Linked DNA regions of Homo sapiens. The gene in region 2 interacts genetically with the main gene of each other region. Each region holds a gene or a part of one and is shown on either strand. Other genes may lie near its edges. The genes, in order: CYP4F12, CIT, AMHR2, PDCD7, SRFBP1, ACVR1 and TCOF1.

What was found.
Region 1: changes in CIT (region 2) and CYP4F12 together harm fitness more than expected from each alone (negative genetic interaction), as found in Homo sapiens cells (one large-scale study listed by BioGRID).
Region 3: changes in CIT (region 2) and AMHR2 together harm fitness more than expected from each alone (negative genetic interaction), as found in Homo sapiens cells (one large-scale study listed by BioGRID).
Region 4: changes in CIT (region 2) and PDCD7 together harm fitness less than expected from each alone (positive genetic interaction), as found in Homo sapiens cells (one large-scale study listed by BioGRID).
Region 5: changes in CIT (region 2) and SRFBP1 together harm fitness more than expected from each alone (negative genetic interaction), as found in Homo sapiens cells (one large-scale study listed by BioGRID).
Region 6: changes in CIT (region 2) and ACVR1 together harm fitness more than expected from each alone (negative genetic interaction), as found in Homo sapiens cells (one large-scale study listed by BioGRID).
Region 7: changes in CIT (region 2) and TCOF1 together harm fitness more than expected from each alone (negative genetic interaction), as found in Homo sapiens cells (one large-scale study listed by BioGRID).

What each region holds. Positions count from the first base shown.
Region 1 is NC_000019.10:15,686,587-15,690,086, forward strand, and holds part of CYP4F12 (cytochrome P450 4F12), read left to right. Parts: intron 1-3,500. UniProt on the Homo sapiens protein: A cytochrome P450 monooxygenase involved in the metabolism of endogenous polyunsaturated fatty acids (PUFAs).
Region 2 is NC_000012.12:119,685,321-119,688,820, forward strand, and holds the end of CIT (citron Rho-interacting kinase), read right to left. Parts: intron 2,936-3,500; coding exon 2,912-2,935; 3' UTR 471-2,911; downstream 1-470. UniProt on the Homo sapiens protein: Plays a role in cytokinesis. Required for KIF14 localization to the central spindle and midbody. Putative RHO/RAC effector that binds to the GTP-bound forms of RHO and RAC1. It probably binds p21 with a tighter specificity in vivo.
Region 3 is NC_000012.12:53,422,597-53,426,654, forward strand, and holds the start of AMHR2 (anti-Muellerian hormone type-2 receptor isoform 1 precursor), read left to right. Parts: upstream 1-1,258; 5' UTR 1,259-1,338; coding exon 1,339-1,387; intron 1,388-1,691; coding exon 1,692-1,874; intron 1,875-2,112; coding exon 2,113-2,304; intron 2,305-2,489; exon of another isoform or gene 2,490-2,560; coding exon of another isoform or gene 2,561-2,568; coding exon 2,569-2,646; intron 2,647-2,858; coding exon 2,859-2,977; intron 2,978-3,089; coding exon of another isoform or gene 3,090-3,092; coding exon 3,093-3,323; intron 3,324-4,058. UniProt on the Homo sapiens protein: On ligand binding, forms a receptor complex consisting of two type II and two type I transmembrane serine/threonine kinases.
Region 4 is NC_000015.10:65,120,344-65,123,808, reverse strand, and holds part of PDCD7 (programmed cell death protein 7), read left to right. Parts: intron 1-3,465. UniProt on the Homo sapiens protein: Promotes apoptosis when overexpressed.
Region 5 is NC_000005.10:122,017,475-122,020,974, forward strand, and holds part of SRFBP1 (serum response factor-binding protein 1), read left to right. Parts: intron 1-1,785; coding exon 1,786-1,867; intron 1,868-2,613; coding exon 2,614-3,328; intron 3,329-3,500. UniProt on the Homo sapiens protein: May be involved in regulating transcriptional activation of cardiac genes during the aging process. May play a role in biosynthesis and/or processing of SLC2A4 in adipose cells.
Region 6 is NC_000002.12:157,764,831-157,768,330, reverse strand, and holds part of ACVR1 (activin receptor type-1 precursor), read left to right. Parts: intron 1-2,134; coding exon 2,135-2,410; intron 2,411-3,500. UniProt on the Homo sapiens protein: Bone morphogenetic protein (BMP) type I receptor that is involved in a wide variety of biological processes, including bone, heart, cartilage, nervous, and reproductive system development and regulation.
Region 7 is NC_000005.10:150,367,697-150,371,196, forward strand, and holds part of TCOF1 (treacle protein), read left to right. Parts: intron 1-147; coding exon 148-221; intron 222-1,019; coding exon 1,020-1,206; intron 1,207-1,832; coding exon 1,833-1,906; intron 1,907-3,500.

The DNA.
Region 1 (3,500 bases), on a different chromosome or scaffold from region 2:
TAATAACTATGGTAGTGAAAGCAGAGTCTGGCTGTGGAAAATATGGGAAAATGGTAATGGCTTCCATTTTAACCCAAAGGCAATGGGAAGCCATAACAAGTGGTTGAGCAGGGGAGGGGCAGGTCATATCTGGGCACCAGAAAGATCTTTTCAGAGCTACTGTGGAGAGAGGACCAGCTGTAGAATGAAGTCCCAGTGAAGACATTCTGGGACCTGAGCCAGGGCAGGGGCTGGGGATGGAGAGGAGGCAATGGACTGGACATGTGTTTTGGAGGCCGTGTCCTCCCGTCCAAGCCTTTGCTCAGCACAGCAGTCCTAAAAGGTGGCAACACTTTTTATGCTTTTAAAAACCAAGATATCAAGTAATACTGTGCACTTTGTAAACAAAAAAAAGTGTCTAAAACATTTATAAAAATGAGCTTTCCTCATGCCTGTAATCCCAGCACTTTGGAAGGCCGAGGCGGGCGGATCACGAGGTCAGGAGATCGAGACCATCCTGGCTAACACGGTGAAACCCCGTCTCTACTAAAAGTATAAAAAATTAGCCGGGCGTGATGGCAGGTGCCTGTAGTCCCAGCTACTCTGGAGGCTGAGGCAGGAGAATGGCGTGAACCCGGGTGGCGGAGCTTGCAGTGAGCTGAGATGGCACCATTGCACTCCAGCCTGGGCAACAGAGTGAGACTCTTTCTCAAAAAAAAAAAAAAAAGAGCTTCCTTCTTAACTGTCACCCTAGTAGTTTCTACCATCAATGGTTTTGTGTGTCCCTCCAGAAGATGGCTATCTTGATGCCCACTTTATAAGAACACAGACTTCTTCTATACAAATAAGAGTGTATAAAATAGACACAGTACTTTTTCCCAAGATGGTGGGTTGGAGGCAATGTCAGTGTGCCTCTCCCATGTGGAAGGACAGAATAGTGTGTAGAGATTCACAGTGTAAGCTTTCTTTTCCCAAGAAACAACACAGGGACTTAACAGGAAAACCAGAAGAATCCACAAACCCTTCAAAAGAAGCTACAGGCTGCATTCTACTCTGTGAGACAGGTGAAAAACTGTGAATCCTCAGAGTAAGAGGGGGAGAGACTGCTTCCTAGGTACACATCTTCACTGGGGAATCTGAAAATCCAGACCACAGGAGAAGGCCTTAACTCTATCCAGGGCTTGAACTGATTTAGGGAGTGGTAAGAAATATAAAAGTAGAAGCAGCAGCAGGAAGTCCCTTGCAGGCATTCACAATCTCCAGCATGGACTGAGGGAAGCCATTCCTTATTGTATCTCACAGGGGACCTTGGGGAAGTCAGACAACTAGCTCAGGTGAGGTCACAGGTTGAACGAAATGCCCAAATGAATTTCTTGATATAACCTCGAGTGGGGATGAACTCCCTTGACCAGAACCCGGGAGGCAAGCAGGAAGTGTGCTGCAGACAGGAGTTCAGAAGCTGGGTGCCTGGCCTTGGACAGGGACAAAAAAGGACATGGCCTGAAAGCATTGCTATTTCTGTGGGAAAAGCTTATGGCCTGGGGCAGGGCTGAGTTCTGTGCACAGACTGCCTGGATCTAAATCCAGTGCTATGAGTGGAACACTGCATGTGTGAGACCCACCTTGTGCCAACTGCATGGGAGCTAGATGAGGCTTACTGCCACCTGCTACTCTCCACTCCCTTGTCAAACTCTTCTGTGAGGCAGAGGCAGTTATACTCACCTCTGGATCATTACCCCAGTGACCTAAGAACCACCCTCTGACTCTCACAGGGCAAAACAAACAAACAAAAAAACAGTTGCAAAAAAAAAAAAATACCTAGGAATATACTTAACCAAGGAGGTTAAAGCTCTCTACAAGGAGAACTACAAAACAGTGCTGGACAAAACCATAGATGACACAAACCAATGAAAACACATCCCATGTTCATGGATTGGAAGAATCAATATTGTGAAAATGATCATAGTGCAAAGCAATCTACAGATTTAACGCAATGCCTATGAAAATACCTTCATCATTTTTCACACAACTGGGAAAAGCAATTCTAAAATTCATATGGAACCAAAACAGAGCCTGTGTAGTCAAAGCAATACCAAGCAAAAAGAAAAAATTTGGAGGCATCACATTACCGGACTTCAAATTACATTACAAGGCTACAATTACCAAAACAGCATGGTACTGGTATAAAAGTAGGCATTTAGATGAATGGAACAGAAAGGAGGACCCAGAAATAAAGCCAAATACTTACAGCCAACTGATCTTTGACAAAGCATACAAAAACATAAATTGGGGAAAGACACCCTATTCAATAAATGGTGCTGGGAAAACTGGACAGTCACATGTAGAAAAATGAAACTGCATCCCCATCTCTCACCTTGTACAAAAATCAAAGGCTTAAATCTAAGACAGAAACCATAACAATTTTATAAGATAACCTTGGAAAAACTCTTTTGGACATTGGCCTAGGCAAAGAATTCGTGACCAAGACCACAAAAGCAAATGCAACAAAACCAAAAATAAATCAGTGGAACTTAATTAAACTAAAAAGCTTCTGCACAACAAAATAATAATAATAATAATAGCCGACTTAACAGACAACCTACAGAGTGGGGGAAAATATTTGCAAACTATGCATCTGACAAAGGGCTAGTATCCAGAATCTACAAGGAACTCAAACAACTCAGCAAGGAAAAAAAACAAACAAACAATTAGTTCCATCAAAAAGTGGGCAAAGGGCATGAACAGATAATTCTCAAAAGAAGATACACAAACAGCCACGAAACATATGAAAAAATGCTCAACATCACTAATCATCAGGGATATGCAAATTAAAACCACAATGAGATACCATCTTGTTTCTACAAGAATGGCCATAATTAAAAAGTCAAAAAACAATAGATGTATGTTGTGGATGTATTGAAAAGTGAATGCTCATACACTGCTATGAAAATTAACATAACCTCTGTGGAAAACGATAAGGATATTCCTTAGCGAACTAAAAGTAAATCTACCATTCCATCCAGCAATCTCACTACTAGGTATCCACCCAAAGGAAAAGTGATTATATGAAAAAGACACATGCACATGCATGCTTATAGTAGCACAATTCACAATTGTAAAGGTACGGAACCAACCTAACTGCCCATTGACCAATGAGTGGATAAAGAAAATGTGGCATATATACACAATGGAATACTACTCAGTCATAAAAAGGAATGAAATAATGTCTTTTGCCGCAACTTGGATGGAGCTGGAGGCCATTATTCTAAGTGAAGTAACTCAAGAATAGAAAACCAAATACCATATATTTTCACCTATAAGTGGGAGCTAAGCTGTGAGGACACAAATACATACAGAGTGATATAATGAGCTTTGGAGACTCGGAGAGCAAGGTTGGGAGCCGGGTAAGGGAGAAAAGACTGCATATTGGGGACAGTATACACTGCATGGGTGATGGGTGCACTAAAACCTCAGAATTCACCACTATAGAAATCATCCATGTAACCAAACCACTTATATCC
Region 2 (3,500 bases):
CCTTTGATTTGAATTCTTCTCTACAAAGAAATCTACATTATTAAATTGTAGTTGGCCTTTTAATAGATGAAAGATATCTTGAGCTGACCTGTTCCTGGTTAGCTGATTATAGAACTGGGTAATCCATTCTTCAGTAATCCTTTCCAAATGTCCTGTGTGACTGCTTGAAGAGCTTTCCAGCTCTGCAGTCCTATAAAATGACCTTAATAGCCAGTTCATGGTTCACTGGAAGTATTGACCAAATTTCCACAGTCAAACTCTTGGCAGAGAATGTCACCAATCGCTTAATTCCAGGATAGCAGTGTGCCCTAACCACCACGTGGCTTCCTCTATCCCACTCCAGAGGAAAACCCTCCCCACAACGTAAAGAAGGTCCCATCCATGATAATACACCTACACTGACACGCTGGTGATAGTTTTTCTTTCACAGTCTCTCAAAAAAAGAAGAGGTCATTGCACTAAAGCACACATTAGTTTAGATCATTGCTTTATTTCACTAATTGTTCAACAACAAAGTTCATTCCTCTCAAGGTGGATCTTGAATCATTCCTTGTGTTCTCTTCCTCGTTCTGAATAAAAAAGGTAATGAAGAAAAAGCCTGTACTTTTGGAGACCTAGAATCTTGATTGATGCTAATAAGCTTTTGACAGCAATTTCGTGTTACGGTATATCCTGCTGGCATCTTGGTGGTCACACGGAGCTCCCCACCCTCCAGTGAAGATGGCTGTCCACAACTACCACCATTGAAACCAAAAGTAAGTGTTGAAAAATGCACCTTTTACAATAAAAAAGTAGAAACCAATTCAATTTCCTCTTTTTTTTTTTACGAATATAAAGTTTCTTGTAAATATGTACAGTCTTTTGAGCTAGTTCTATATAGCAGAAAGCAGTTCACAGATGAGACACACAATATACATTTTCAGGGCTCAAGAAGCCCATTTCTCATGGAGATCCTAAATGAAATGCCAAGACTGAAAGACCCATTTTCAGTGACCTTTCCAAATACTGTGGACCAAGAGACAAAACTTCAGCAAACATTCAATCAAATCTGCCCTGGGGACGGGAGGGGAGGGAGTACGACCCCACAGACTCCAAGCAACACATAAAACGCCACAGCAGGACATTTGCCAAAGGAGCTACCACATGGAGGTTTGTAGGCGTTTCAAACAAGAAAGCACTTAGGTTAAGACACGAGCAGGAAGGAGCTGGGATGCAGGCCAGGTTGCAATCTGGAAAGGGATCTGAACTGTGGACACAGTTGAAAACACGGTCATGTTCACCTGCTGCGGTGGAAACGGGTCTACCTTTGAGCCTACCTAGGAGGTGCCTGGGTTGTTGAGGCGGGCCTAAGAGTCGTGGAGGACCCAAAGCAACAGATGCCTTGTGGGAGATTAAAGGCAGAAATAAGGCCGCGAGTTAGCTTGCCAACTGCAAAGCCTCTAGGTTGGTTCTGTACCAGTTGCCAGGAATTTCGTACTCTAATAGGAGGGTCCGCAGACCCAGTGGGAGCCGCACTGCACCTAAGGACTTCCCAACCCTGGCGGAGCTGGAAGAGTTGAGCTGCGGCTGCTTTCTCAAACTTCCTGGTCTTAGGTCTAGCCCTAGGGAAAGGCTCATTTGGAAAGTCACAGTTTCGTGGGGTAGAACCGCGCTGGATTGGGTGTGAACAGAGTCATCCTCTGCAGGCAGGGAAGTGTGAAGTTTGGAGGGGACACTGAGTGGGAGGTGGTGGTTTGCTGAAATCCTTCTCTGGTCGTAAGGCTTGAGCGTTTTGTTTTTTGTTTGTTCAGTGCTACAGACTGCAGCTTGTGGTGGCCAGTTAGTCGGCAAGTCGTCAGAGGGTCTCGATTTGGCAGGAGCTATGGGATGGTATTAATACATTGGCAGAGCAACCCAAGGGGGCAGCACATGCAGTGAACTGCCATGCAGAACTCCCGACGGGCCTCTTCCCCATCCCAGAGTGGGGAACAACACGCCGTCACAGACAAGGAAGTGGGTGCCCCCGTCCCCTCCCCGACCCCGAGACCCAGGAGTGCTGGGCTCCGAGCAAGTCTATTGCATGCTTTCCTGGCCAAAGCTATATGGAAAGCGGGAACAGCAGGCTGGGGAGATGACGCTGGGGGGTGGGGAAGGAAAGCGTCTCGAGGTCCCTTGGCCCCAAGTCACTGCCTCCGAGCTGAGGCCCCGATGACCTCCATACATTCTCAGCTGGTGGGAGGGGAAGTCGTCAAGGCCATAAAAGGCAATGAAAACAGTAAACATTTGGCTACGATGTCACCCTGGGGAAAGCAGGGCCATCTATGAGAATGAACAGGAACAAGGATGAACCTACTTGGCTGCGGGAGGTTGGCCAACTGACCGGGACTGTTCTACACTATGCCTCGGTGGCAAAGACCTGATGATGTGGTCGAGCTAAAAATGACTACAACAGGAAATACGTCGCTATTCAAATCTATTAAGAATTCTGTTGTCTTAAAAAAAAAAAAAAAAAAAGGAAAGAAACAAAGAGAAAAAAAAAAGAAAAACCAACCAATCCTAGGATCTTAAAGTAGCTAATTAGGATTCTAACCATGTTGTAGTTAGCATCCCGGTTGGTTTCCTTTGATGAACTAACTGGTACAGGCTAGAGCTAGGTACAAAAGTTTGTGAATGCTTTGAAAGAGTAACAAAGTGCAAAGAGATGACTGCAGGGAGGTGCCCAGGGCAGGCACCGGGCGCTGACAGCTCCGAAGAGCCTCAGCCACCTGCCCCTCCTGGAGACAGGGGTGTCCGTGCCGAGGTGGGTCTGGGCCCCGCTGAGCCAGAGGGTGGCTGAGCACGTGGGCGCTTGGGTCCCCATCAGCAGAGTTCCATAGTGTGTTTGGTGTTTTCCTGCAGATCAAGATGAGGAGTTGGTTTTTCTGGCTGAGATTTATACTGAAGACTGGTCCCAGACCTAGGAGTGAAATAAGGAGGAGTGTTAGCCATCCGAGGCCAGAAGTTGCTGTGCTCACCTTGCATGATGCAAATGGGAATCTGCAGCCCCTGGGCTATCCCCTTCAGCAGCTAGCAGTGAGTGCTTGGCAGGGCAGCACCCGCTCCAGAGCCTGGGGAAGCCAGGGAGTGAAACTCACTGGAAAATCCCAAAGCCGTGTGTGTACCTGCGATGCTGTAAGCATGTGATACACACACATGCACATACACAGTTTCATCGGTCAATTGGGAGGGATAAGAAGCCATATGGATGGTGTTTCCTTCTTTCTTTACCAGCAGGTGAACTGCAGGTGGCATCAGAAGGAGAATGCCACCCAGAAAATCAGCCCCAAATGGCAGAAAGGTGGCTCCTTGACCTGCTTAGCCTGCTAAGGAGGCACCAAGCACTTGAGCCATGCCCTGCCTGGGGGAGCCCCTGGTCTTCCACACCCATCCCTCTCCTCGATCGCAAACCTAAAATTACACAGATCATTCATGCACATGATTTAAACATTTCCAAAAGTTCAAAGTTCTTCTGGAAGGCAACC
Region 3 (4,058 bases), about 66 Mb from region 2:
GATCACGAGGTCACGAGATCGAGACTATCCTGGCCAACATGGTGAAACCCTGTCTCTACTAAAAATACAAAAATTAGCTGGACATGGTGGTGCGTGCCTGTAATCCCAGCTACTCGGGAGGCTGAGGCAGGAGAATCGCTTGAACCAGGGAGTCAGAGGTTGCAGTGAGCCAAGATGGCACCACTGCACTCTAGCCTGGTGACAGAGCGACACTCGGTCTCAAAAAATAAATAAATAAAATAATAATAATAAATATTTCAGGGGAGAATTAGATGAGATGATTGTAAAATGCATAGCCCTAGCTGTGCCCCAGCACATAGTAGGTGCTTGATAAGAAATTTGTTACCTCCTTAATAATGGGTATTTGTTCAGCCTGTGAACCAATGTGTTTTTTTTTTTTAAGTAAAATCCACGGCTAGGCATGGTGGCTCACGCCTATAATCCCAGCACTTTGGGAGGCCGAGGCGGGCAAATCACCTGAGGTAAGGAGTTCGAGACTAGCCTGGCTGACATGGTGAAACCCCGTCTCTACTAAAAATACAAAAATTAGCCAGGTGTGGTGGCAGGCGCCTGTAATCCCAGCTACTCAGGAGGCTGAGGCAGGAGAATAGCTTGAACCCAGGAGGCGGAGGTTGCAGTGAGCTGCGATCGTGCCACTGCACTCCAGCCTGGGGGAGAAGAGCGAGACTCCGTCTCAAAAAAAAAAAAAAAAAAATCCACATAGCAAAATTTACCATTGTTACTGTTTTCAATGTGTTTTTTAAAAATTCAGGTAAGTTTTGTATACTTTCTGATTCTTAAGTTGGAAAACAAGGTAACCTCTAATATGGGCTGTGAGGCCTTCCTCTGCCCAAGCAGTTGCAGATATGAACCCTGAATATAAAGAGATCTTAGGCTAGAAAGGATCTTGGGCAGAGCTGAATGGCTCTAAGCATTTGACCTCACATTGGTTTCCTCCTGAGAAGAGTCAACAGAGTCCAGCATCTTCTTCCAAGGTCAGGGAAGGGCAAAGATTTGAAATTAGGCATCACTGGGTTCTCAGCTGGGCCTCCAAGTTCCCCTCCTCTCACTATGCAGAGCAAAGAGGAGGTTGCAGAAGAGAAGAGGATATGAGATTGGTTCTCTGCTCCTCCCTTTCTTTCCCTGCTTTCCCCACACCCACCCTCTCCCCCACAGCAGCCTTCTCCCCCACAGAGGCTGGGATAGGATGAGGGGGGCGGAGTTGGGGACTGAGGGATCAGAAGCCCCAGGATGCCCTGTATCTGAAGAAAGATTTGGCCAGGGGCAGCTGTGCTGGCTTATGCTCTTCTCCTTCTGCTGCTGCCATCCTCCAGCAAGATGCTAGGGTCTTTGGGGCTTTGGGCATTACTTCCCACAGCTGTGGAAGGTAAGTGTCTACAGGGAGGGGAAGGGTCTCTCCATCCATCCAGCAAGGGAAAGGGGCGCTTGAAGCAAGAGCCACCCCTTTGGAAGAGTGGTGAGTGGGCTGGGTGAGTAAGGGTGAAGGATAGAGCCATGTGTCCCCATGGCAGGGCTCAGGTTCCAGGCCTCTGCTGACCCTGCTTCCTCCTGTGGCTTTACCATACTGACGCTGGGATGTGGAACATGTTTTGTCTATTCTTTTGGCCAGTTTTTTGCCTCTGCATTCACTCCCACCTTGAATCTTTTCCTTTCCCCACCCTGGGCCTCAGCACCCCCAAACAGGCGAACCTGTGTGTTCTTTGAGGCCCCTGGAGTGCGGGGAAGCACAAAGACACTGGGAGAGCTGCTAGATACAGGCACAGAGCTCCCCAGAGCTATCCGCTGCCTCTACAGCCGCTGCTGCTTTGGGATCTGGAACCTGACCCAAGACCGGGCACAGGTGGAAATGCAAGGTGAATGGCAAAGTATATGGCAGGTGATGGCTAGGGTGGGAGACAGACACATCCTGGGGTGTGGGTGGCAACCAAGGGGGAAGGGGAGAAATAGAACATCTGGTGGGAAAGAAAAGCCCATGAGAGCTGGAAGGGACGCCTCTGATAGAGAAGGGATTTACCCTCTGTTTCCACACCCCATTGTGCTTTCTTCCTTGCCCCCCCTTTCTCTCCTCTTCCCCTAATCCCATCCCATCAGGATGCCGAGACAGTGATGAGCCAGGCTGTGAGTCCCTCCACTGTGACCCAAGTCCCCGAGCCCACCCCAGCCCTGGCTCCACTCTCTTCACCTGCTCCTGTGGCACTGACTTCTGCAATGCCAATTACAGCCATCTGCCTCCTCCAGGGAGCCCTGGGACTCCTGGCTCCCAGGGTCCCCAGGCTGCCCCAGGTAGCCACCCAAGGGTACTGAAGCCTGATGGGGGCTGGGGCCCAGGTTAGGATGAGAGGTGGAACCAGGGCCAGTTCTCACCCTACTCCCGCCCCACGCTTTCCTCCTCCTGGCCTTGGGAAGTTGGTTGCCCTGGTGACTGGGAGATAAGGGGTCTTGTGACCAGGGTGGGGGTGGGTTGAGACGCAAGCTCTCAGGAGGGGAAGAGCAGAGAGCAGGTTTGGGTCAGTGCTCTCCAGCCTGCATTCTTGCCTTGATGTCCAGGTGAGTCCATCTGGATGGCACTGGTGCTGCTGGGGCTGTTCCTCCTCCTCCTGCTGCTGCTGGGCAGCATCATCTTGGGTACTAATCCACCCCATCCCTCCCTTGTGACCCCAAGACATTGCCCCAAAAGCTCTGACCCCTCTCCAGGCACCCCTGACCCCATGGTCTTGGGATCTCTATAGCCTGATTCCCGGACTCCCATGACCTCTCACAAAGCTCCCTTTCCACGAAGTCCCTTTTCCTGTCCCTATGCATTTGCACCCTGACCCTAAGGCTCTTGTCTGTTCCAGCCCTGCTACAGCGAAAGAACTACAGAGTGCGAGGTGAGCCAGTGCCAGAGCCAAGGCCAGACTCAGGCAGGGACTGGAGTGTGGAGCTGCAGGAGCTGCCTGAGCTGTGTTTCTCCCAGGTGCCCCAGGGAGGGAGAGAAGGGCTCCTCTGGGCACTCCTGGAGGTTGTGCTGGGGAGGAATCCTGGCCCTGTTATAGCTCAGAGGCCCACACTCAGCACAGTGTCCCCAGCAGGTAATCCGGGAAGGAGGTCATGCAGTGGTTTGGGCCGGGCAGCTGCAAGGAAAACTGGTTGCCATCAAGGCCTTCCCACCGAGGTCTGTGGCTCAGTTCCAAGCTGAGAGAGCATTGTACGAACTTCCAGGCCTACAGCACGACCACATTGTCCGATTTATCACTGCCAGCCGGGGGGGTCCTGGCCGCCTGCTCTCTGGGCCCCTGCTGGTACTGGAACTGCATCCCAAGGTGAGCACCAAGGAGTGTATATGTGTGTGTGTGTGCCTGTGTGTATGTATAGAGGTGGGGGCTACATGGCAGCTGGGCCCTGTTGATTGCTTCTGCTTTCGATTTTCTCTTTTCTAAAACATTAAAAATGGCCAGGCGAGGTGGCCCACACCTGTAATCCCAGGACTTTGGGAGGCCAAGGTGGGTGGATCGCTTAAGCCCAGGAGCTCAAGACCAGCCTAGGCAATATGAGGAAACCCCATCACTGCAAAATTACAAAAATTAGCTCAGCATGGCAGTGCACACCTGTAGTCCCAGCTACTCAGGAGGCTGAGGTGGAAAGATCGCTTGAGCTTAGGAGGTTGAGGCTGCAGTGAGCCGTGAGCATCCCACTGCACTCCAGCCTGGGAGACAGAGCGAGACCATGTGAAAAAATAGTAACAGGCTGGGCACGGTGGCAGACGCCTGTAATCCCAGCACTTTGGGAGGCCAAGGTGTGAGGATCACTTGAACCCAGGAATTCAAGAACAGCCTGGGCAACACCGTGAAACCCCACCTCTACAAAAAACAAAAAATTGGCTGGGTGTGATGGCACATGCCTGTGGTCCCAGCTACTTGGGAGGCTGAAGTGGAAGGAGCACCTGAGCCTGGGGAGGTCAAGGCTGGCAGTGAGCCAAGATTGTGCCACTGCACTCCAGCCTAGGTGACAGAGTAAGACCCTGTCTCAAAATAATAATTTTTATTTATCTTTTTTAT
Region 4 (3,465 bases), on a different chromosome or scaffold from region 2:
CAACTTAGTAGAAGATAAATTTGAGTTGTAGTGTTTCTGTAGTTGAGAATGAGTGAATGGAAACCTGTAGAAGCAAAGCAGTTAGGAGAAAATCATCTAGAGAAATGTTAGCCTTGAGAGTGAGTTCCACAACCACTTAGCTGTAGTGGTTGAAGGAGGAAAGAATCCTACCTCCAAATTACAACTTTACAAGAAACAGAACTACTAACCTTGAGAAACCATTATTTATGCCATTTATCAGCCCAAACTGAAAATTTAGTGCTCAAAGCTGGCACTATTGTATAACACAAGTTGCAGCATAAATTGTTAAAACCCTGTTGAAGGGCCGGGCATGGTGGCTCATGCCTGTAATCCCAGCACTTTGGGAGGCCGAGGTGGGAGGATCATGAGGTCAGGAGATCAAGATTATCCTGGCCAACATGGTGAAACACTGTCTCTACTAAAAATACAGAAATTAGCTGGGAATGGTGGCACATGCCTGTAATCCCAGCTACTCGGGAGGCTGAGGCAGGAGAATCGCTTGAACCCAGGAATCAGAGGTTACAGTGAGGTGAGATCGCGCCACTGTACTCCAGCCTGGTGACAGAGCGAGACTCCGTCTCAAAACAAAACAAACAAAAAAACCTTGTTGAAAATCATTCATTCATTGAAGAAGTATCTATTAATTACCTTCTCTGTGTCAAGTGTTTGGTAACTGAGCAAATATATAGCTTTTTTAGGAAGCAGTTTAGAACACAGTTTGTTAGTCTTGAAAGTATTCACAAACATTTCCATTTTTGAGAATTTTTCTTTCTTTTTTTTTTTTTGAGACAGAGTTTCACTCTTGTTGCCCAGGCTGGAGTGCCGTGGTGCGATCTCGGCTCACTGTAAGCCCCGCTTTCTGGTTTCAAGCGATTCTCCTGCCTCAGCCTCCTGAGTAGCTGGGATTACAGGCACCTGCCACCACGCCCGGCTAATTTTTGTATTTTTAGTAGAGACAGGGTTTCACCATGTTGGCCAGGCTGGTCTCAAACTCCTGACCTCGTGATCCACCCGTCTCAGCCTCCCAAAGTGTTGGAATTACAGGAGCCACCCTGCCCGGCCAAGAATTTTTCTGATAGAAATCCCTAGGAAGGAAAAAAGTAACATGCCCAAGAATATTCATTGTATCACAATATAATAACAGGACATTTGGAATAGCTTAGGTGTCCAGGAGTAGGGAACTTGATAAGTATATTCTAGTGTATTGATTTGATGAAATAGGATACAGCCATTAAATAATTATGAAGATTGGAGAAGAACGTACAGAATCAACAGGGAGAAGTGGAAATTACATACATGTAACGTTGAACTATATGAAGTTGCTAATACATGGACAAAAAGACCTGAAGAGAATGTGAGAAAGTATAAAATGGTTGATTATGGTAATGGGATTAGGATTTTTTTTTTCTTTCTTGTATCTGGTATTCTTTTTTTTTAAATTTATTTTTTTGGAGATAAGAGTCTTGCTCTGTCACCCAAGCCAGAGTGCAGTGGCATGATCTTGGCTCACTGCAGCCTCCACCTCCTGGGTTCAAGCGATTCTCCTGGCTTAGCCTCCTGAGTAGTTGGAACTACAGGCGCACGCCACCATGCTCGGCTAATTTTTTGTATTTTTAGTGGATATGGGGTTTCACCATGTTGGCCAGGCTGGTCTTGAACTCCTGAGCTCAGGCAACCTGCCTGCCTCAGTCTCCCAAAGTGCTAGGTTTACAGGTGTGAGCCACCACGCTTGGCCCTGTATCTGGTATTGCTAAAATGCTTGGGTAACATATTTTCCTTTAAAATCTTCAAGGACTGACAGGATAGATCACATCCACATCACTCTACATTGATTCACCTGGAAGCTTTTGTATTACAGGGCCATTATGGTAGTGAGTGCACAATTGCAGTCCACTCAAATATTCATTAAGTTAAAATCTTTTTTTCTTATGAAACTTTATGAAACATTTCACACATGCACAAAAATAGAATACATAAACACTCATCATCAACTATGATACCATTGTCACACCAAAAAAATTAGCAGTAATTCTTTGATATCACCTAATAACCTGACTATTTTCTCCACTGTGGCTTTAGATATGTTGGCTATACTGTTAGCTGACCTCATAGTTAAATCAGGATAATAACCATCCCAGTTTTACTGGGACTTGGGGCTTTCAGTGCTACATGCAGGCAAACCAAAACAGTTGGTCAGCCTACTGTCAGCAGCAGACTGCAAGGTCAGTGTGGTTGTTTTAAGTGTATCTTCCTCACCATCCAAGTGTGCACTCCCAAAATTCACACTCAGTCAGAGGAAGAATTGTTTATTAATTAGATCTGGGAGTTGATGCTAAGGGAATTTCACAAACAATGAAGTTAAGACAAGTTCCTCCCTTTAGTGAGCTCACTGTTTCAAGTGGAGGATCAAGACCATTAGAAATAAACAAAGTCGAAGCCAGGTATGGTGGTTCACGCCTGTAATCCCAGCACTTTGGGAGGCCAAGGTGGGTGGATCACCTGAGGTCAGGAGTTCGAGACCAGCCTGACCAACATGGAGAAACATCTACTAAAAATACAAAAATTAGCCGGGTGTGTTGGTGCATGCCTGTAATCCCAGCTACTCAGGAGGCTGAGTCAGGAGAATCGCTTGAACCCGGGATGCGTGGAGTTTGCAGTGAGCTGAGATCGCACCATTGCCCTCCAGCCTGGGCAACAAGAATGAAACTCCATCTCAAAAAAAAAAAAAAAAAAAGAAAGAAAGTCAGAGGTTAAGTGGTGTGGATGATCCAGAGGGAGGAGTTGAGAAAGTCAGGGTAGGGTCAGAGTAATTGAATACTCAGAAACATCAAATTGAGCCTTAAAAGATTGGGTAAAATTTCTAAATTTTAACCGATACATACTATAGCTAGGACTTTTAAACTTCCTCATTATAACACAAATTTTGGGATAAGAAAACGTGTGTAAAAGGCCATTTGGGCTGGATGCAGTGGCTCACTTTGGGAAGCCAAGCTGGTAGGATTGCTTGAGGCCAGGAGTTAGAGATTAGCCTGGGCAACATAGCAAGACCTCATACAAAAAAGTTTTGGTCTTTTTTTTTGGAGACGGAGTCTCACTCTGTTGCCCAGGCTGGAGTGCAGTGGTGTGATCTCCGCTCACTGCAAGCTCCACCTCCCAGGTTCACGCCATTCTCCTGTCTCAGCCTCCCGAGTAGCTGGGACTACAGGTACCTGCCACCATGCCTGGCTAATTTTTTGTATTTTTAGTAGAGACGGGGTTTCACCGTGTTAGCCAGGATGTTCTCAATCTCCTGACCTCGTGAGACCTCATACAAAAAATTTACAAATTAGTAGGTAGGGCCAGGCACAGTGGCTCATGCCTGTAATCCCAGCACTTAGGGAGGCCAAGGCAGGGGGATTGCTTGACCAGGAGTTTAAGACCAGCTTGAGAAACACAGGGATACCC
Region 5 (3,500 bases), on a different chromosome or scaffold from region 2:
CTGGGCTTAAGACCACCCTGATCCACTGTGATTCCACATAATTTAATCTGCAAAGACTTTGTTTCCAAATAAGTTCACATTCTGAGTTTCCAGGTGGATGTGAATTTTGAGGGGACGCGATTCAACCTAGTACACAAGGTAATTAAATAGCAGATGGTCCTGGCACAGGATTTGCACCAGGTGTAATTTAAATAGATTATTCTTTGAGTGACATTACTCACATAAATCCTACAAACAGAATAGCTTGCATACTGCCATCATCTTGTTTTTATTTTGGTATTCGTACATTTATAATACTGGGTTGGAAATGTCTTATATTTGACTGTTCACAATGAAGGGTAAATTTAGGATAAAGACATTTGAAACTGGTTGTTTTACTTTCACACACTAGTGAAATTTATTCACTTGCTTTATTAAATGTGTATTGGGTGCCTACTATTATTACCAGTCACTATTCTAGGCACTGAATCTACAGCAATGAGGCAAACAAAGTCTCTGCTTTGCAGATATGAAAACATCTACACTGCCATGCAGTGGTAAGTGATGTGAAGTAAATAGTGATGGGAAGTGTTGTGCTAGTTGAGATGACATTTAAGCAGAGACCTGAATACAGTGAGATGATCAGCCGTGTATATATTTGGGAGTAGAGTATTCCAGGTAAAGAAGAGATTGCAATGGTATGGGCTAAGCATCAGAAAGCAATAAAGCTTAAAGAAGAACAGATATGGAAATAGCATGATTTGATTACATTTTTAAAAATCACCGTGGCTGTTGTGTGGAAAATTGACTGTTGAGAGAGCAAGTTGCAAAGGAGAGTGACCAGGCATAAGTTTAATTATGTTGGTCCAGGTGAGAGGTGTTGGTGATTTAGTCAAAGGTAGTAAGAATAGAAATGGTGAGAAGCGACTGGTTCTGGATATATTTTACATTTGGAACCACAGGGTGTATTGTGAGTTTTGAGGGAAAGACAAATAGTGGGAAAGAATCCTTAGAGTTTTAGGCCTGAGCAACCAGAACAATGGAAATTACATACAATAAGATGGAAAAGCTACAGGAGAAGCAGATTTGTGAGGAAAAATCAAAGAATTCTGTTTTGACAATGTCAAATAGATGTCAGGTTAGGTGGTTTGATGTATCAGCTTAGAGCTCAGGTTGGAGCTGGAGGTCGAAATTTAGATGTTGTCAGCCTTCATACGGCATTTCAAGTCATTAGCCGGCATTATGATTTTTCCAAATTTATAAATATATTGAATACTGTATATAATGTTCCCATTCAGTCTAGGCCCTGAGAACGTGTCAGTGATAGTAGACATTTAAAATAGAAATATAGAGCGTTAGATAATTTCTAGGTCTCTGTTAAATGGAACTTCAAGTATTACAGTAGTCTCACCCAGTTTAGCACTAATATGTTATTTGATTCTTTGATATTAATTTAGTCTTCTTAATTAGATTGTTCAAGCTCTTTGATAGTAAAAACTATGTTCTTTTTTTGATGTTACACATGGTGCTTATCACAATTCTGAGAATATTAAGTATCGTATCCAAAGAATATTTATTAATGATTAAGTGATAATTTTAGTTGTTCAAAGGCAGTAATATTTTTGTCAGGATGATCTTTGTCTTTAGCATGGATTGATTATACAGATATCTTATCTAAGGAGAATATTAACTAGTTCTATTCTCCAACTCTAATTTTAAAGACTATGATAGATTTTATTTTATTCACTTTCAATAGTGTCATTTTTATTTCATTCCCATACGTTTATTATATTTTTAAATTTGCAGCCAGATTCTACTGCAACTGAAAGAGCAATTGCCAGACTAGCAGTACATCCTCTTCTGAAGAAAAAGATAGATGTGCTAAAAGGTATGAATTAAATGACTTTTAAGCCATGTACTTAATGTATTTGTAGACTTTGGATAATGGCTATTCACTTATTTTAACTCTTGAGGTTCTATTATAAATATAAGTTTCTTTCAAATATTTACCAGTGTGGAAGGTGTCTGAAAATACAGAAAGTGTGATCTCTGAAGAAAAACCAAATCTGTATTGTTTAGTAAATTCTAATATGTGAACGTATAATACGTAATATATATCTTTTTATATATAATATATACAAGATAAAGTTGAATAGTTTTTTTAAAATATTGACATAACTCATTAGTTTTGGTTTCGCCACTTAGGAACATAATTTTATATATGTTTATTATAAAATATATCTATAAAATGAAATTTTTTTGTCACATGATACTGAATTTTATGTCTGAAAGCACAGTTTATAATAATGCATTATTATTATATAAATTAAAGTTGCCATTCCCTTTTATTTGTATTCTGTGATGTTTTTACTGTTCTTCATAACTCCAAGACATGAAGAAAACATTTTCTTTTCATTTTCACAATTTAAAATGAATACGTCTGAGCATATCTTATGTTTGGTTTTTAAGAAGTCGAAAGATTTCTTTGTGAATTCAGACCGAGTATATGTATTTAATATCAATTCCAACTGCCCTCTTAAATCTTTTCAAATAATTTTTTAAAATACTGTCCTAAAACAGTCATGTTTTATATGTTTCAGTGCTAAAATGAGTGATGCACTGTTTCTCTTGCAGCTGCTGTACAAGCCTTTAAAGAAGCAAGACAAAATGTTGCTGAAGTTGAGTCATCAAAGAATGCTTCAGAGGACAATCATTCTGAGAATACTTTGTATTCAAATGATAATGGAAGTAATTTACAGCGTGAAGCAACTGTCATCAGTGAGCAAAAAGTCAAAGAAACCAAAATATTGGCGAAGAAACCAATACATAATTCAAAGGAAAAAATAGCAAAGATGGAACATGGACCTAAAGCAGTGACTATTGCAAATTCTCCATCAAAGCCTTCAGAAAAGGATTCTGTAGTTTCCCTTGAGTCCCAGAAGACACCTGCTGACCCAAAACTGAAAACTCTAAGTCAAACCAAAAAAAACAAAGGATCTGATAGCTCACTCTCTGGTAACAGTGATGGCGGAGAAGAATTTTGTGAAGAGGAGAAGGAATATTTTGATGATAGCACAGAAGAAAGGTTTTACAAGCAGTCTTCCATGTCTGAAGATAGTGATAGCGGTGACGACTTCTTCATTGGGAAAGTCAGACGGACACGAAAGAAGGAAAGTAGTTGTCATTCTTCAGTTAAGGAACAAAAACCACTAGAAAAAGTGTTTCTTAAAGAAGATACAGGTGAAACTCATGGGGATACAAGAAATGACAAAATCAAGCCAAGTACAGAAACCAGAAAGTTAGAATCAGTGTTTTTCCACTCTTTATCTGGATCTAAAAGCTCTAGAAGGTAAGATTCTTTTTCTATTCTGAAATAATCATTAGTTCTTTTTTAAAAAGCTATAAATGTCTACTTGTCCATACATGAAGAGACTATAATTCTAGTTTGTACAACCCATCCTGTTTTTAGACATGGCCCTCTCCAAGGTTGTAGTGGGGTATTAGGTACAGATACACATATG
Region 6 (3,500 bases), on a different chromosome or scaffold from region 2:
AGCAGAAACATTTTCTTTATTAAGAATAACTAATGTCCAAGAACACATTTTGATGCATATTGTGGCCAGCTAAGGGCTCCAAGAGAAGCAGCATCGAGGGGAAAAGCAGACTGGGGAGCAGGGAAGGAGTGGGAGACTCAGGGCTGGCCATGGGAATAGGCTTAGAGGAAGAGAGAGAAAGAAGTAGAGGGTGAAGGTGCTAAAATATTATTCAGTTTGCTTTGCATATGTCCCATAGGTGAAAATGTGAAATTATTTTTTCTCTGAGTAGAAATCAGTTTGTTTGGGGACAGTATGGCATAGTCAGTAAGAGTCTGGGTTCTAGAATCAGACCTACAGGAACCTAATATCAATTATGCGATCTACTTACTTCATGTGGTTTTTGGAGGATTGCATATAAAGTTCCAGGCATGTAGTACTCAATAATTATTAGCTGCCTCTGTTGTGGTTGCCGATGATGATGATGATCAAATAGGGGACCTTTCTTGGCTCACAGAGCCTTCCTATGCAAGGTATCAGGACAGCTAGCACTAAATTCAGAGTTGATAGCAACTTAAATAGCTGTGTGATCCTTGGCATCTCCCAGCACCAACTTTATTATCTGTAAAATGAGCATAATGATGTCTTTCTTACCAGCTTGTTGGGAAAAATCTCATGAGAAAATATATGTGAAAGTGACATAAATTTTATATAAAGTACTATGCAAGTATAAAGCATTTTAATGTATTTTCTCTTACATTTTCATAAGTCATTTAATTCTTCCTCAAGCCATATCCGTCTTAAAAAATTTTTTTTCTCACCTCTTTTTAAGTCCCAAACTTCACTGTCTACCAGCGTGGTTCATATATGTGAGAATAATCCTAGAAAGGCACCTCTGTAGCAGAAAAGGCAAGCACACGTCACAATTTATTTCATAAGATAGGAAGTGCCCCTAACTTCCAGACAGTCTTCTGCATGCTCAAAAGTTCCCTCCAGATGTCTAGAAAAATCTCTTCCGGGCTGATCGCGATGTCTCACGCTTGTAATCCCAGCACTTTGGGAGGCCAAGGCAGGTGGATCACCTGAAGGTCAGGAGTTTGAGACCAGCGTGGCCAACGTGGGGAAACCTCATCTCTACTTAAAATATAAAAAATTAGCCCGGCGTGATGGTGGGCCCCTGTAATCCCAGCTACTCGGGAGGCTGAGGCAGGAGAATCACTTGAACCCAGGAGGCGGTGGTTGCAGTGAACCGAGATCGCGCCATTGCACTCCAGCCTGGGCAACAAGAGGGAAACTTCGTCTCAAAAAAAAAGAAAAAGAAAAAGAAAAATCTTCTCCAACCTCTTCATCCACATTTGTCAGTCACTCACTTTACTTCAAGACCAGTTGAGTTGCCACTTCCTAATGGAAGCCTATTGTAACACCTAGTCTGAATTACTATAATTTCCTGCTCTGGGCTCATGTTGCCCTTTGAAGATATATATTATAGTACTTTTCGTATTTTATTGTAGTGTTTTCGTTTTTACATCTGTCTTCTTTAGCCAGCAAACACTATCATCTTGGTTTTTCTGTGTGTGACTGACAGATAGCATCATAAATACTCATATATTTGGTTGGTTTCTTTTTTTATTTCGTGAATCAGTCAATCATTTAATGTAAACTTGCCCCCTTTATTTTACATCTGAGCAGATATAGGCTAAGGAGCCTAACTGAGTTGCCCAGTATTAGACAAGTAAATCACAGGCAGAGTCAGGACTAGAATACAGTACTCAGGTTTTAGATTTGATGTTCTTTTAGGATGGTTGATGAATGGTCTGTTCCTAAAATATCAACATGCTGAAGGGCTTGGCACTATCATTATGGGTGAGCACAAAGATATTATTGCTATCTGAAACTTAAGGAATGTAAAATATCTTTTAAAGTATTACTTATAATGAAATGAATATGAAATTTTCCTATTAGCAGTGCCCTTTTAAGGAATAAATGCTATTATTTTTCTCTGTTGATGCTTCTGTAAACCTCCTCTTAGGGCAATTGGTCAGTTTAATTACTTTTTGTTACAGATGACATTTACTGTGTAGGTCGCTATTTCTAAATACTTTAAGTTATAATGTGGAATCCTCATGTATATTAATTTTTTTCTTGCTCTCTCCAGGTTTCATTGCTTCAGACATGACATCAAGACACTCCAGTACCCAGCTGTGGTTAATTACACATTATCATGAAATGGGATCGTTGTACGACTATCTTCAGCTTACTACTCTGGATACAGTTAGCTGCCTTCGAATAGTGCTGTCCATAGCTAGTGGTCTTGCACATTTGCACATAGAGATATTTGGGACCCAAGGGAAACCAGCCATTGCCCATCGAGATTTAAAGAGCAAAAATATTCTGGTTAAGAAGAATGGACAGTGTTGCATAGCAGATTTGGGTAAATTTCTAAAAATATTTTTTTCCTCACCAGTTTTATTTTTGTTTCAATGGTTAGGTGAGTTGCATCTCTCCCCCACAACATGTTATGCAAAATTTCAAACATGCAGAAAAGTTGAACATTTACAATGAACACCTTTATACCCACCACATAGATTCTCACATTAACATTTTACTATCCTTAAGCATTATTATGTATTTATTCATCTATTCATCTCCCCATCCATCAGTCCATATCAACCTTTGATAGAGTTGAAAGTAAATTGCAGACAAAGGAATTCTTTCTTCTGATGATTTCAGCATGTACACTAGTATATCATTGACAAGAATGCATTATTTGCTTTTTCTTTTTTTCAGGTAAAATTTATATACTGTGAGATATACAAATCTTAAGAGTTTTGACAAATGTTGTAAAACCCAAATCCCTGTCGAGATACAGAGTTTCCCATTACTCTTGACAGTTACCTCAGGCTCATTCAGTCAGTCCCTGCCACACCCCACCTCAGAAGTAACCAGTACTGTTGCATTTTGGTTTCACTAACCTTCACATAAAGTAGGTGCACAATAAATACTCTATAGAATTAGTTTATCTTAAAAGTGGTCTCTAAAATCATTCTGTAACCAAGGCAAAAGAATCAAGTTAAGAAATAGGAAAATAATCCCCGAACTGATTCACTCTTTTCCCTGTTAGGATAGCTCATTCTTATGGTGTTAGAGTAGTACTCAGTGTAGCTTTAGTTGCATTATAAATAAGAGTATTTTCATTTATAGTGGCATTTTATATAAAACCATGTTCTTCCTGGATTCCTAGAATATTGGCTAAATAATTGTGCTAATGAGAATTCAGGGCCCTCTACTTGATTAAACATGGTTTATATGATATTTATATTATTGCAATTATTGTTAGCCTGATAAAGGTTTAGACAAAAATAGCTTTAGTTATGTAAATAACAAAGTTTATTTTTGTTTGTTTTTAAACATAAGGGATTTGACATGTTAGGAAAATTTATTTCCTTTGAATCCCTTTAAAGTCTTTGCTTTTACATTGAGAAATTACAATGTTTCCCAAGTAGGAGACGAAAGATTTTAGG
Region 7 (3,500 bases), on a different chromosome or scaffold from region 2:
CCTGCAAGTCTGGGCTCAGCCTCAGATCCTCATGCCAGCACCAGGCAGCCAATACCAATAGAATTGTTAGGTGAGATGAAACCTGTTTGCCATTCATAGATGAGAAAAGCTCATCTGGCTCCTTTAGCAGATGTTTGTTTCTTGCAGCCCCAAGACTAGCATCTACCAACTCCTCAGTCCTGGGGGCGGACTTGCCATCAAGCATGAAAGAAAAAGCCAAGGTGAGTGGGACTGCCTTCCAAGCTATTGCCTATGGGATTTAAGGTGCCTGGTAGGGGACAGTCTTACATGTCAGAGAAGGATAGGGTTGTGAGTAATTGCCCCACCTGGATTCAGAGCTCAACCTGTGTCACCAGTTGTGGGATCTTAGTCCCTTCACCTCTCTGGGCCTCAGTTTACTTTTCTATAAAGATAAGGATGATGCCTGCTGCAGTGGGCCACTGGGCACATTCTACACCTGGGGTAGGCGATTTCTTTCCTCTTTCATGCCTGCGTTCACCCGTTCACTCAACAGATCTTGACTAATACCTGTTATGTTCCAGGCACTGTGCTAGGTGTGGAGGCACCGTAGTGATCAAGACATCTGTGGTTCTGAAACTCTAAAAGCATTTTCCAAACTGGAAACTGCTCAAAAAACAAGGTGTCATTTTCTAATAATCCAGAAAGCAGAGTTAGATACATACATGTATAAAGAATTGTGCCTCTGCGATTGCCTGGAGCATTAGCAACAATGTCTCAAAGTAATTATGAAGTAATGATAAGATCAACAACAAACTGCTACTTACCACTTAGTAAATAACTACCATGTCCCAAGAACTGGGATTCTGTTTTCTCAACACCTCTGGTGAGAGGAGGTGCTGTTTTTAACCTCACTTTAAAGATTGGGAAACAGATTGAAGGGGTAGTTTACCCAAACTCACACAGCTAAGAAGTGGTAAGATTGGGTTCAGATGCAAGTGGCCTGTGCTCTTAGTTCACCATGCCATACCAGATGTGTCTGTCACTCTTGTTCTCTGTAGGCAGAGACAGAGAAAGCTGGCAAGACTGGGAATTCCATGCCACACCCTGCCACTGGGAAGACGGTGGCCAACCTTCTTTCTGGGAAGTCTCCCAGGAAGTCAGCAGAGCCCTCAGCAAATACTACGTTGGTCTCAGAAACTGAGGAGGAGGGCAGCGTCCCGGCCTTTGGAGCTGCTGCCAAGCCTGGTAAGAAGTCCCCACCTCTAGGAACCTAGTCCCCAGAACTTGGGCTGGTGAGGCAGGCCTAGGCATTGCTTTAAGTTCTGGGACATTTCTGGAATCAAAAGTTTGTCTCCAGGACAGCCAGGTTCCTGCATCTTAGGACTTTTCTCATCACCTAGACGAGGGAGGGTCAGCTTACAGGGACCTGGCCTCAGGCTGAACAGCCCACCTGGTGGTTGGAGCATTTTCTGCTTTATGACTCCCTGGTGAGTTACAGGGACAACTGGCAGCTCAGAGACTAAACTGAAAGGCCTGATTTGCCTCTGTTTCCTATGTAGAGTAGACATCTGTCTGGCCTGCATCAGTGGATATGATGGTGGATGGAGGTTCTGTAGACTGTCAGGTGCTGGTGCATATTTGTTGGGTCCCCTCACAGCCCTTCCCAGGGCCTCAGAGATGTGTGGGAACATAGGGATGGTGATGGTACCCACCTCAGAAGGGGGCTTCACAGCTCAGTGCATGTGAGGCACACGAGGGGTGAGCGCTCAGCACCTGGCTTTGATGAGCAGCTGGTTTGTGGGGAGGTGCTGGGGAGGGGCAGGTGAGGCTGGAAAGGGAGTCCCTCAGTCCCCTCCGTGTCCGATCCTCAGGGATGGTGTCAGCGGGCCAGGCCGACAGCTCCAGCGAGGACACCTCCAGCTCCAGTGATGAGACAGACGTGGAGGTAATTGCCACCCATCCCTAGGAGTTGCCCTCTCCCAGCCTCTAACCCTTCCAGGAACCTGTCTGGGGCTTCAGACACCAGTGGGCCCAGATGAGTTCAGCAACTGTGGTAGGGTGACCAGGAGCTGGAAAGGCTGCAGCCGGAGAGGGGCAGGGAGAGGAGTCTGGTGCTGCTTGCTGCACTCTGAGTGTGAGATCAGCCCTGGGGGCAGGAGAGGGACACCCTCCTGCCTGTGAGACTAGACAAGCCTTCCTGGGAGAGGTGCCCTGGAGTAGGGCCTCAAAGCACAGTGGGCTTCACTGGGAAGGGATGTGGAGGAGGCAGGGCATTCCAGACAGGAAATGGGGCAAGAACAGGGCCCAGAGGCAACAGTGTGGCTGTCGTGGTCTGGCTAGGGCTGCGGCTGCTGAGAGGGTTCTGGGCCAACTGGTGAATGCCAGGCCTAGACACTTGGCTAGAGTTGGGCAGGACTCTTGGGTTTGTGAACTTTGACCTGGAAAAGGTCTCCACAGGTTACTTTTTATTGTGTACCTACTAAGTGGCAGACCTGGGGAATATAGTGATGAGCAGGACAGGCAGAGTTCCTGCTGCCATGGGGCAAGGGAGCGTCCCTCAGATATTTAATTGGTGATGGCTGCTATGAAGTGGAAATGTAGAGGGCCACGCAGGGCAGGAACCTGACGTTGATGAGTAGGCGTAAGCAGAAGGAATGGCATGTGCAGAGAAGGCGGCAAAGAGAGTTTGGTGCTTTTAAAGAACATTGATCTTTTTTTAAGACAGTCTCACTGTGTCACCCAAGCTGGAGTGCAGTAGCGCGATCTTGGCTAGCTGCAACTTCCACCTCCCGGGTTCAAGCGATTGTCGTGCCTCAGCCTCCCAAGTAGCTGGGATTACAGGTGCACGCCACCACGCCTGGCTAATTTTTGTATTTTTTGTGGAGACAGGGTTTCACCATGTTGGCCAGGCTAGTCTCGAACTCCTGACCTCAAGTGGTCCATGTGCCTTGGCCTCCCAAAGTGCTGGGATTACAGGCATGAGCCGCCACGCCTGGCCAAAACCTTGATCTTTAAATGAGAGGGAGAAACCAGGCACGGTGGCTCGCACCTGTAAGTGCAGCACTCTGGGAGGCCAAGGCAGGAGGATCATTTGAGGCCAGAAGTTTGAACCCAGCCTGAGCAACATAGTGAAACCCTGTCTCTACAAGATGTTATTTTTTAAAAAAACAAATAAATTATGGGGAAAGTGACACAAGATGAAGTCCTAGGTAGACAGGGGCCAGATCTTCTGTCTGACCTTGAGGACCACCATAAGGAATTTGGGTTTTATTCTAGGGGCTGTGAGAAGCCATGCCAGCAAGGAGAGATGGCCTGATTTGCATTTAATAAGATTGCTGGCTGCAGCCTGGGTTGGAGGGCAGTGCAGAATAAAAGCAGTAAGACCATGTAGGAGACTATTGGAGTAATACTGATACTGGCATAAGAGGCTGGGGGCTGGGAGACCAAGGTGTCCACAGTTGGAAAGATGTTTTCAAGGGAAAACCAGCACAAGTCAGGGATGAACTGATCTGGTGCCCAGGGAACTTCTCACTTTACTG